Linked DNA regions of Homo sapiens. The protein of the gene in region 1 interacts with the protein of each later gene in a biochemical or structural test. Each region holds a gene or a part of one and is shown on either strand. Other genes may lie near its edges.

Region 1 (3,653 bases):
GCCAATTGTTTCCTTCCCTGCCTGTGTAGCCTCAGGGTGCCTTTTAAACTACCACTGTGTGATGGAAGTATGAGGTGCAAGGATCTTTTGGGCTTGATGTGGGGGCTGATAGGGAGCCCCCAAGCCACTGTGAGTTGAAGTACCACGTAAGGAGGTTCTGGAGGGTGCTGGAGCTGGGCCAGAGGAAGCAGCCTGGCGAAGGAGGCAGGGCTCAGCTGGATGGTGCTCGGGCTGCAGAAGAGAAGGTGCCTGACAGGTGTGGAGGCGGCTTTTGTGCCACTGGATGGGAGGCCGGGCTGAGGCGGGTAGAGTGGCACTTCATGTGTCAGAGTGGAGGAATGTTGGCGAGGCTGGTGTTCTGGCAGGAGGGCATTGCTGGGTGGTTTGGGTTATAGCGCCTGCCAGGCATTCACTGAGATGTTGGAGGCAATGGGAAATGTCAGGCTGGTGCACAGTTGAAAAACAGGTGACAGACAGTTCTGAAGACATCTCAGGCAGGACCCTGAAGTCGTAAAGTTGTGCTTTCTGGGTGAAATGGCACTTGCTGCATTGACTGTTTATACAACAATAACCCCACATATTTGCAAGGGGTCCTGTTGCCCACAACATGGCTTCCCTTTCCTTTTCTGCACTCTGGGTCTGTTTTGCAGCTGAGGAAACAGGCTCAGTGAAGGTTTCCCGTCCCCACCCCCCCACTCCCACCCCAGTCCCAGACTGGATGGTTCTCTTTGCTGTGTGCCCATGTTGAGGTGGAGTCCTTCTGAAATCACACTTATAGCACTGGGTAGAAAACTGGATATGCGTTTGTGTCTGGTTTGTTCCCAGTCCCCAGTTTTATTCATCTTTAGCTTCTCAGCATCCGGTGCATAATCAGTGCTTAATGAATCTTGATTGGAAGGTATCAGGTGTAGAGCACCTCAGGATAGCTCCTGCCACATGTCTGCCCTATGCAGGGTGCTGAGGGATTTAAACAGCCATGGTGACCAACCCAAAGAGGAGGTGGTACGTCTGCAGAAGCATGGTTCCCCCTGTCCTATTCAGGGGGGTTCACTGAGGTGGGGGCTTGTCTTGGTCTGGGGCATGGGGAGAGGCAACAACCTTGCAGAGGGGACCGCCATGGCAGCTCCATGCCTCCTTAACCACTCCAAGCACAGTTTAGTCCTCACTGTCCAATTTTGTCATTAGCATTTTTGGCACTTGGTTTAATTTGAGGGCATCAGGAGGGATCTTAATATGTGGTGCTTTCCCCTATTTGACACCCCTTTATGCTTTGTCAATCAACAGGAGCTTGAAGAAATCCGCAAATGTGGGATGAAAAACTTCCGTAACATCCAGGTTGATGAAGCTAATTTATTGACTTGGCAAGGGCTTATTGTTCCTGTGAGTATTGAACACTTCCACTTCCTACCAGATTATTCTTTAAGGTGATGTGTGTGCTGTTGGGCTTGTTTTTCTGCTCCTTAGTAGGCTCTTAGTCTAGGCAGCCAGCAGATGCACAGAAGTGGCTGTCGCTCTAGGGTGATAAGGTAGGGAGTGTAGCCTTGGGTCCTGAGTAGAGTCACATCTTGGCACTCGTTTTGTCAAATTCAGGGAGTCCTGAGCTTTGCAGATCTGTAGACACAGAGAAAAGGAGTGTGTCTGTGCTCCTGCTCTTTCCTGACTTCCCTGCGCCTGGCCTGATGGATCAGCAGGACCTTCTTCTCTGAGCTCCTCAGGAGGGGACAAGCATTCCCCTCTAGATATTTTGCTTTCTCTCTTGGTTTTGCATTCATGTCTCTAACCCTTTGGATACCTGTATTTCGGGCTTTATTCCTGGTCCCCTCCAACCTGTGCCTTCCATTTGTCTCAAGTCCCTTTTCCTAATTGCCCACATGTTCCCCTCACCCCATGTCTTTTCTGGGGCTTATGCCTCCAGTGTCTGCCCCCACAGCCCAGCTCCCCCATCTCACAGTCTTCTGCCTTCTGATGGGCTCAAGGCCCTCCTAACGATGGCTTTCCTTAGCACCCTCTTAGTGCCTACTCTTTTCTGCATCCTTTGATCCCCTCCCCTTCAAGAGGCTTGTCTTATAATTAACTCCAGTTTGCAATCCCCCTTCCTCTCACTCTCCTGAAACCACGTCACACCCAGCCCACAGGCTGCCCCCACTGTTGTCACACCTCTAGCTCGGCAGTGCTGGCATCATGGCCCTTGCTTGCCTCCTGAGCTTTTGGAGCACGGGCAGCATTCCAGCCCCCAGTCCTGTGACCAGCCTGCCACTCGCTCCTGTTCTGCCACTCCTTCCTCCTCACTCTTAAACATGACTCTTGTTGGTCTCCTGCTGTTCTCCTGTTCTGTTTTGTCTCGGGACCCTACTACTTTCGGCATCATAGATGATTATGCCAGACATGAAGGATTCCCACACCTGTCTCCATTCCTGCCTTCTCCCCGGAAGCTGCACCATCTGTCCACCAGGCGGCCTCACTTGGTCATTGTGTAGCCTTCAGCTACCTCAGCTCACACCCTTGTCCTGCGTGAGTGCCCTCCTTTCCTGTTCTTCCTCATCCACTCACCTTCTCTGTTCCTTTTCATTCCCACTTTGCACATCTGAGCCTCTGGCCCTTGCCCTGTGCCTGCCGCTGTCCTGTATATAATTTGTTCTCATGGATGGATTGGCTGCTTTGCCAAAGCAGAGCATGGAGCATGCTTCCTCCTGTAGATGCTTCTTCCTGATGCTGGTTATAAGGTCATGAGCATGGAGCATGCTTCCTCCTGTAGATGCTTCCTCCTGTAGATGATTTCTCCCTGTAGATGCTTTCTTCCTGATGCTGGTTATAAGGTGAGCATGGAGCATGCTTCCTCCTGTAGATGCTTTCTTCTTGATGCTGGTTATAAGGTGAGCATGGAGCATGCTCCCTCCTGTAGATGCTTTCTTCTTGATGCTGGTTATAAGGTCATGCTTTTTTTTTTTTAAGTCCCTGAATTTGATCAGCAGTTATTGGATTTGTAGTTTATTTCCATAATCATTTGGATAACTAAGGAAAGATATGCTTTGTAATGATTTAGTATGCTCAGAATGTTTAAATCTGGGAGCTTCCAGTCTGATTTTGAAGATGAGTCCTTTAGATTTCTTTAGGCTTGATGGTGTTAGGGCTCAGGGCAAAGGGTGTGGGTGGCAGAGACACCTCTGCATGGGAGGGGTTGGCCTGTGAGTGCAGCCCTTGCCTACTCTAGGGACCTGAAGATGGCCGGGACCATCTGACCTCTTGTCCCTTTTCTAATTGAGATTGTGTAGTCTACTGAGCAAAGAAATGAACAGTTAATCTGTGGCTCTTTGGAAAATGATAAAAATGAATGGAATGGTTTTAAGTGGTAAGGCTTGGGCAGTCTGGCCCTGAGAATTTAGTGGCCTGAGAGCCTGCTAGCCAGCTCCACGGGTAGATTGCTGCTGGGCATGCTCTGCCCCAACTCATGCAAAGGCCTCCCTCTGGTTTCACGCTGGCAGGGGCTATGGAGCAGTGGGCTAAGATCTTACTAGGGCAAAGGTGGAGGCTGGCTGGTAGAATCCAAGTGTGCTTGGGCTGAGGCTCTGGGGAGCTATCCAGGCCAAAGTTTCACCTTGGAGACGGTAAGCAACAGCCAGGGCTGCTCTTGTCCCTGTGTATACCACTTCTTC
Region 2 (3,653 bases), on another chromosome or scaffold:
GCTCTTGACCATCCTCCCTCCAAAAAGATGAGAATTCTCCTACTGCTAAAAAAACTTAAACGTTTACTTATTTTTGACGCATTTAAGATCCTTTTGATCTTTAAGATATTTCAAGTGCTTTTGAAACACTATTCAGATAATCGTATAAGTTATGAAACAGTATGAACATTAATGATATTTAAAATTATATTCATTGATGTAAGAATCAATGGAAAGCTTCCAATTTTTTCCTTATAGATGCATTTATTTAAAACTTACACAAGCTCCACTTATCTTGGTGGTGGTAAAATAAACCCTTTAATTGTCATCTTTCTTTCTTTTTTTAATTTTTTATTTGTTTTAAGACGGAGTCTCACTCTGTCGCCCAGGCTGGAGTGCAATGGCACGATCTTGGCTCACTGCAACCTCCGCCTCCCCAGCTCAAGCGATTCTCCTGCCTCACCCTCCCGAGTAGCTGGAATTACAGGCATGTGCCACCACGCCCGGCTAATTTTTTGTATTTTCAGTAGAGACAGGGTTTCGCCAAGTTGGCCGGGCTGGAATTTTTCTACTATAACAGAAACACAAGCAATTGTGTCATTTTTTTCCTGCATCTTAAACACGCGCTTAATTGTTTGGCCATAAATTGTTAGTTTTCAAACCTTAATGTATCTGCAGCAGAAGGGTTTAGCAGGTTGTAATAGGAAGAGATCAAGAGACTGTGCATTAGGGAGAGTGTCTTTTCTCTATCTAACAGGAGTCAATGGGCGCTCATATTATCACTGAGACTACAAACTAGGATGGTGTGGGAAGGAGAGCCTAAGGGTTGGAATTCATTTGAACTCTCCTCAGTCTCACTAAATTGAGAGGCAAGTAATTGATACAGGCTCTCTACTCATGCTGGGACTGCTGCCTATTTGTCTTCCCAAAAGCTGATGAGGAAAGACTGGCACTAAGAATCTTTTAATTTTATATAAAATAAGGATGGGGCTAACTGAAGTGAAGCAGGTGAGGGTTATTAGAGAAAATATAACATTGTCACTTACTGAGAAATCCTAGATTTAGTGCTAAACTTTTTTGCCAATGGCTGTGTAACAGAGAATGCCCTAGTAAAAGGTCTTGTAAAAATAGTACCGAATCAGTATCTTTTTTTCTTTCTTTGAAAAAATTATGTAGTGTAAGATAAAGCCCTTTATTTAGTATATGTACTAAAGTACTTATTTTAATCTTTATGTGTATATATATTACTGTATATAATATAAAAATCAAATAACCCATATTCATTTCTTATCTGTCTTTCCATATGAATCTGCTCTAATAGTAAAATGAATAACATCAGTTTATTCTAGAAGAGGTTTTAAATAATTACAAATATTAGCAAATAACATCAAAAGTTATCTAGCCTTTATTGCTCATGTGCCAGTAACCTTCTGACCTAGAAGAGGGCTTTGTGGGGAGGAGAAGGGGAAAGGCGCTGTAGAGAAGTATGTAGAATCCAGTAGTTACCTTTAAGCCAAGAGGGAAGTAATTGCCAGTGGTAAACTACTGGTCTGAGGGGAAAAGATCTATGCCCAGAATATCACCATCTCAAGTTAGTGGCTTTATACAAGGATGAAATAATATAGAAAAAAATGAGATGATATGGTATCACAAACAATCAGAACCAAAGGAACCTTAAAGATTATTTTATAATTTTTTTTTTTTTTTTTTTTTTTTGGAGACGGAGTTTCACTTTTGTTGCCCAGGCTGGAATGCAATGGTGCAATCTTGGCTCACTGCAACCTCCACCTCCCGGGTTCAAGCAATTCTCCTGCCTCAGCCTCCTGAGTAGCTGGGATTATAGGCATGTGCCACCACACCCTGTTAATTTTGTATTTTTAGTAGAGACGGGGTTTCTCCATGTTGGTCAGGCCGGTCTCCAACTTCCAACCTCAGGTGATCTGCCCGCCTCGGCCTCATAAAGTGCTGGGATTACAGGCATGAACCACTGCACCCAGCCCATTTTATAACTTTTATGACCTTAATTGGGAACCTGAAGTACAGATGGGCTGTTGCCTAGGATCACGCCGATAGTTGGGAATAGAATTCAGATTTCCTGACTTCTGGTCCAGTGTTTTGGGGTTTGTTTCAGTTTTTTTTTTTGTTTTGTTTTTTGTTTTTTTTAGATTTTAAAAAATTGTGATAAAATACACATACAGTTTACCATCTTAACCATTTTTAGTGTATGGTTCCGTAGTGTTAAGTACATTTACATTGTTGCACAGTCAACCTCCAGAACTCTTCATCTTGCAAAACCGAAACTCTACATCCATTAAACAGCCAGGCGTGGTGGCACACGCCTGTAGTTCCAGCTGCTTGGGAGGCTGAGGCAGGAGGATTGCTTGAGACCAGGAGCTCAAGGCTGCAATGAGCTGTGATTGCACCACTGCTCTCCAGCCTGGGATACAGAGCAAGACCCTATCTTTAAAAAATAATAATAATAATAAAAACATGTTCATTAAACAACTCCCCATTCCCTCTCTTCCCAACCCCTGGCAACTACCATTTTACTTTTTGTCTCTATAAATTTGACTACTCTAGGTGTCAGTATTGTTGTTGCTTTGTTTGTTTGTTTGTTTCTTCCTTTTTGTGGAGAACGGGGTCTCACTATATTGCTCAGGCAGGTCTCGAACTCCTGGGCTCAAGCTATCCTCCCGCCTCTGCCTCCCTGAGAGCTGGGATTATAGGCGTGAGCCACCGCGCCCAGCCTGTTTGTTTGTTTTTAACTCGTTGTAGCATTACATCTAAAAGTAATGTGGAAATTACTTGTTCTCCTTTTGATTTTTTTGGCATGAAATACACACTTCATTCTGACTTTTTTTGGTGTTGATGCTTTCTTATAATATAAATCAGCTTATAGTGCCGTTTCTTTACTTGTATTTTTTCCTCTGCCTTGAGTACGTTTTCTCTATCTGTATACCTAGTCCCATTCCCCACTCTACCCCCAACTCCCTGAATCTACTTTGTGAACTCATGTTTCAAGGTTCAGCTCAGAAGTCACTTCTTTCAAGTTTTCTCCCGCACCCACAGCAGAGTTAGGAGCTCCTTCTTATCTACTCCTGGTGCTGGTAGAGTTTTGTTTTGTTTTATTTTGTTTTGTTTTGTTTTTCTTGAGACAGGGTCTCGCTCTGTCGCCCAGGCTGGAGTGCAGTGGCACACAATCTCAGCTCACTGCAACCTCTATCTCTCAGGTTCAAGCGATTCTGCTGCCTCAGCCTCCCGAGTAGCTGGGATTACAGGCATGCGCCACCACACCCAGCTAATTTTTTTTGTGTGTATTTTTAGTAGAGATGGGGTTTCACCATGTTGGCCAGGCTAGTCTTGAACTCCTGACCTCAAATGATCTGCCCGCCTCAGCCTCCCAAAGTGCTGGGATTACAGGCGTGAGCCACCAGGCCTGGCTGAGCATTTTGCTTTTTACACTATTTTGGGACTGGTTTCTGCCCTGCCCATTAGACCAAGCTTCTTAAGGGTAAGTGCTTTATCTTCTTATCTCTGATGCATTCCATGTTTGAGCCTATAGTTTTTATTATGCCCAAGAGGGTACTTTTTAAGAAGAAAGAGATTAAACAATCCTTTCCTCTACCCCCTAGCCAGAGAAACCTTTCTGAGACATAGATGTGATCATATCTGTC
Region 3 (3,653 bases), on another chromosome or scaffold:
AGATCACTAAAACTTTCTTTAGATCAGCAATAAGGGTGTTTCAGTTTCTTATCATTTGTGTGTTCACTGGAGTGCTTTCAGTTTCTTTCAAGGATTTTTCCTTTGCATTCATGACTTGGCTAACTGGTGCAAGAGGCCTAGCTTTTGGCCTCTCTGGGCTTTTGACATGCCTTCCTCACTAAGCTTAATCATTTCTCGGTTTTGGTTTAAAATGAGAGATGTGCAAATCTTCCTTTCACTTCAATACCAGAGGCCATTAATTGGCCTAATTTCAATGTTGTTGTGTCTCAGGGAATAGGGAGGCCCAAAGAGAGGAGAGCAGGGTAATGGGGAAACATCTGGTCAGGACACACATGTTTATCTGTTAAATTTGTTGTCTTATATGGGCACAGTTCTTGGTGCCTAAAGCAATTATAATAGTAACATCAATGACTACTCATCAAATATCACCATAACAGATAAAATAATAATGAGAAAAATGTAAATATTAAGAGAATTACCAAAATGTGACACAGACACAGAGTTTCCACATGCTGTTGGAAAAATAACTCTGATAGACTTGCTTGACACAGTGTCGCCACAAACCTTCAATTTATTAAAAATAAAACAAAAAACCCCGAACATCTGCAAAGCACTAAATGTGCCTATAAAATGCAATAAATATGCCTATAAAAGGAAGCAGTGCTTTAACTTTTTTTATTCTTATGTTTTTGAACAAGTGAAAGCTTTGAGTGGCAAAGGTAATTCATGATTTAGTCTGAAAAATCTTATGTCCATTGTTATTTTGAATAATGTAGATTTGTTTATTAGCACTTTAATTGAATTCTTGCTTTATACAGTTTGGAACTTGGGGCAGACAAGATTTTTCCTAGAACCTTAATATTTTCAGTAGTGTGATAGTATGTTTTCTCAAGGAGTCCTAAAGTACTAGTCACAATGTTGGGATAAAGGAGAATATAGAAGTATGATTTTTAAAGTTTCTAAGATGTATTTGTTATAAGACAAAAAGATTTTAATATATTAAACTTTTGTTCATCTTGTGATAAAATCTTATGCTTGATTTTTAAAAATTGGTTTAACTGTAAAACCACTACAGTTTTCACAATCCAGGATACACTTGTTATATTCAAGATAACCAAGTATTTTGTTGGTGCTCACTGGTTCTTCATACTAAGAATCTTCCTGGTTTCAAACTAATTTAAAGATTATGTTTTTTTGGTTATATTAGGAATACTTTTATAATATAACATGAAATATTTGACCAAACTTTAGAAAGATAAAATATACTTCCTTTTTATCTAGCAGGCATTGCCAGTGGACCTGAGCAACAGTGGTATCAGAAGTCATGGAAGTGGCAGTTTTCATGGAGCATCTGCATTTGACCCCTGCTGCCCTGTTTCTTCCTCCCGAGCTGCAATCTTTGGCCATCAGGCCGCTGCTGCTGCCCCAAGTCAACCTTTATCATCAATAGATGGCTATGGATCAAGCATGGTTGCGCAGCCCCAGCCCCAGCCCCCTCCACAGCCCTCTCTCTCATCATGTCGACATTACATGCCACCCCCTTGTAAGTATATACTTAGTGGACACAAAATCTAGAGTCATGTCAATGAAGCATTTTGTACTTCCTTATGAAATAACCTTTAATCCCAGTTCTTAAATTTTTAGTATTTACTTGGCTTAAGAGTAGGGTATATTTTTTCCCATGTTAGTATTATGTAATTGAGGTGGATTGAATGGAAGTTTTAAGGAATTTAGATTTGTTCTTTAGTATAGCTGAAGAAATGTGAAAGTTGAGTAGTATTTCTAGGCACAGTAAAGTAAATTTTTAAGAATTCTCAAGCAGTTAGCTGAGACATAACAGCAAGCTTTGGGAGTTGTAAAAGGATTTTTATATTCATTTGATGCAGGCAATTAAAATATAACCATGGTTGGGCATGATGGCTCACTCCTGTAATCCCAGCACTTTGGGAGGCCAAGGCAGGAGGATGGCTTGAGGCCAGGAGTTTGAGACCAGCCTAGGCAACATAGTGAGACCCCGTTTCTATAAAAATAAAATAGAACCAGCCATGCCTTTTCTAAAGAAATTGAAATTCGTTAGATATCACAAGAAATGATAAATACTCTAAGGCTATGTAACATATTTACTATTTTGTTAGATCATAAGCTAATAATGAAATGAAAGCTTAATAAACACTTGGCTGATAAACACCAAAAATTCATGCTGGAAATGAACCAGGAAGTCAGCAAGGAAATTTGTGTTTTGTTTTGATTACATGGCAAGTGGTAATTTTCACTTACATATCTTCTTGGATTTTTTCTTCTACTCCAGTCATTTAAAAAAATCTGCATCGTGCAGACGCAGCTGGAATCAACCCAGAATCTGTACAGTGAAACTGGTGATATATTATTTACCTTCTCAGTAATGCAACTTAAAATTTAAAGTATAAATTGGAAAACATTTAGCAAGTTTTTACAAAGCATTGACCAATGGGCCAATTCTTTGTATGAGCACCAGTGTGATGCATGGCCTATTTTGTAATACTTGATGGTATTCATTTTTGATTGATCATCTTTTATTTGAAATTCAATATGCTTAATTTTCTGCCCCTCCCCTTTAAAAATAATATACTGAAGCAGTTTATGAGTAAGTTCATTCCTTTCAAAATGTCCTAATAAATACATGTTTTAGATTCATTTGTTATATTCTAAAACATTCAGACTGTGCAGTCATATAAAATGAGAATTTAAAAGCTTCCTCGCACAGCTTACTAATCTTAATATATCAGAGGTAGTAACTGTTCTATAAAAACTTTTAGAAATTTTCTTTGTACACATAGATAGGTATATGTCTTACCTTTTAAAAATGGGAAATCAAACATATTCTACTTCTTGTTTTTTGTTTTTAAATTTAACAGTATATTTTGATTTTTGCATATTAGCACATAAAAATCTAGCTCATTGGTTTTTAATACCCCCATAATATCCATTGTATATTAAATCAGTCTTCTGTTGATGGACATTAAAGTTGTTTATGGTTGAGTTTATGTATAGTTTAACTTCCTAGAAATGTGATTGCTATGTCAGAGGGCTAAACTTTCAGATAAATACTGTTAAGTTTTCTCTCCAAGGGGCTGCATCAATTTACACACCTCATTAGGAGTGTGTTAATGAGAATGAAGGTAGGAAATTTAAATTGTATTATTTTCTGTTAGAGACATTTTGATAACTCTGTTTTGGGCTTCTTTTCCTGAAGGAGTGTGTGTATTCTCTCCCCAACTTGCCCGTGCTTTTAAAAAACATTTCCCGTATGCTTTAGTTCACGTGTGAAACATGTGGTTCTTAAACCTTTTTTCATCCAGAATGAACTGGGGAAGACAATATGGCATAGTAGAGCACTAGCTTTAGAATTGGATAGATTCGAGTTGACCTCCCAGCTCTGACTAATTAGCTTGGTGACTTTGGATAAGTTATTTAATCTCTCTGTCCTTACATTCTTTGCACTTGTAAAATGGGAATAATTCCTATTGGCTATAAATTGTGATACTTGGATCCAGATGAATAGTTTGCTGTTTCATAAGTACATTTATATGTATAACAACAATACTTGTGGAGTAAGAATATGTCTCTCTCTGCTTTTGAAAGGTTTGTGGTCT

What was found.
Region 2: the proteins of UBE2L3 (region 1) and XIAP form a complex in vitro, tested with the Homo sapiens proteins (one study listed by BioGRID).
Region 3: the proteins of UBE2L3 (region 1) and RNF111 form a complex in vitro, tested with the Homo sapiens proteins (one study listed by BioGRID).

What each region holds. Positions count from the first base shown.
Region 1 is NC_000022.11:21,591,577-21,595,229, forward strand, and holds part of UBE2L3 (ubiquitin-conjugating enzyme E2 L3), read left to right. Parts: intron 1-1,284; coding exon 1,285-1,380; intron 1,381-3,653. UniProt on the Homo sapiens protein: Ubiquitin-conjugating enzyme E2 that specifically acts with HECT-type and RBR family E3 ubiquitin-protein ligases.
Region 2 is NC_000023.11:123,901,510-123,905,162, forward strand, and holds part of XIAP (E3 ubiquitin-protein ligase XIAP), read left to right. Parts: intron 1-3,653.
Region 3 is NC_000015.10:59,074,652-59,078,304, forward strand, and holds part of RNF111 (E3 ubiquitin-protein ligase Arkadia), read left to right. Parts: intron 1-1,302; coding exon 1,303-1,564; intron 1,565-3,653. UniProt on the Homo sapiens protein: E3 ubiquitin-protein ligase. Required for mesoderm patterning during embryonic development. Acts as an enhancer of the transcriptional responses of the SMAD2/SMAD3 effectors, which are activated downstream of BMP.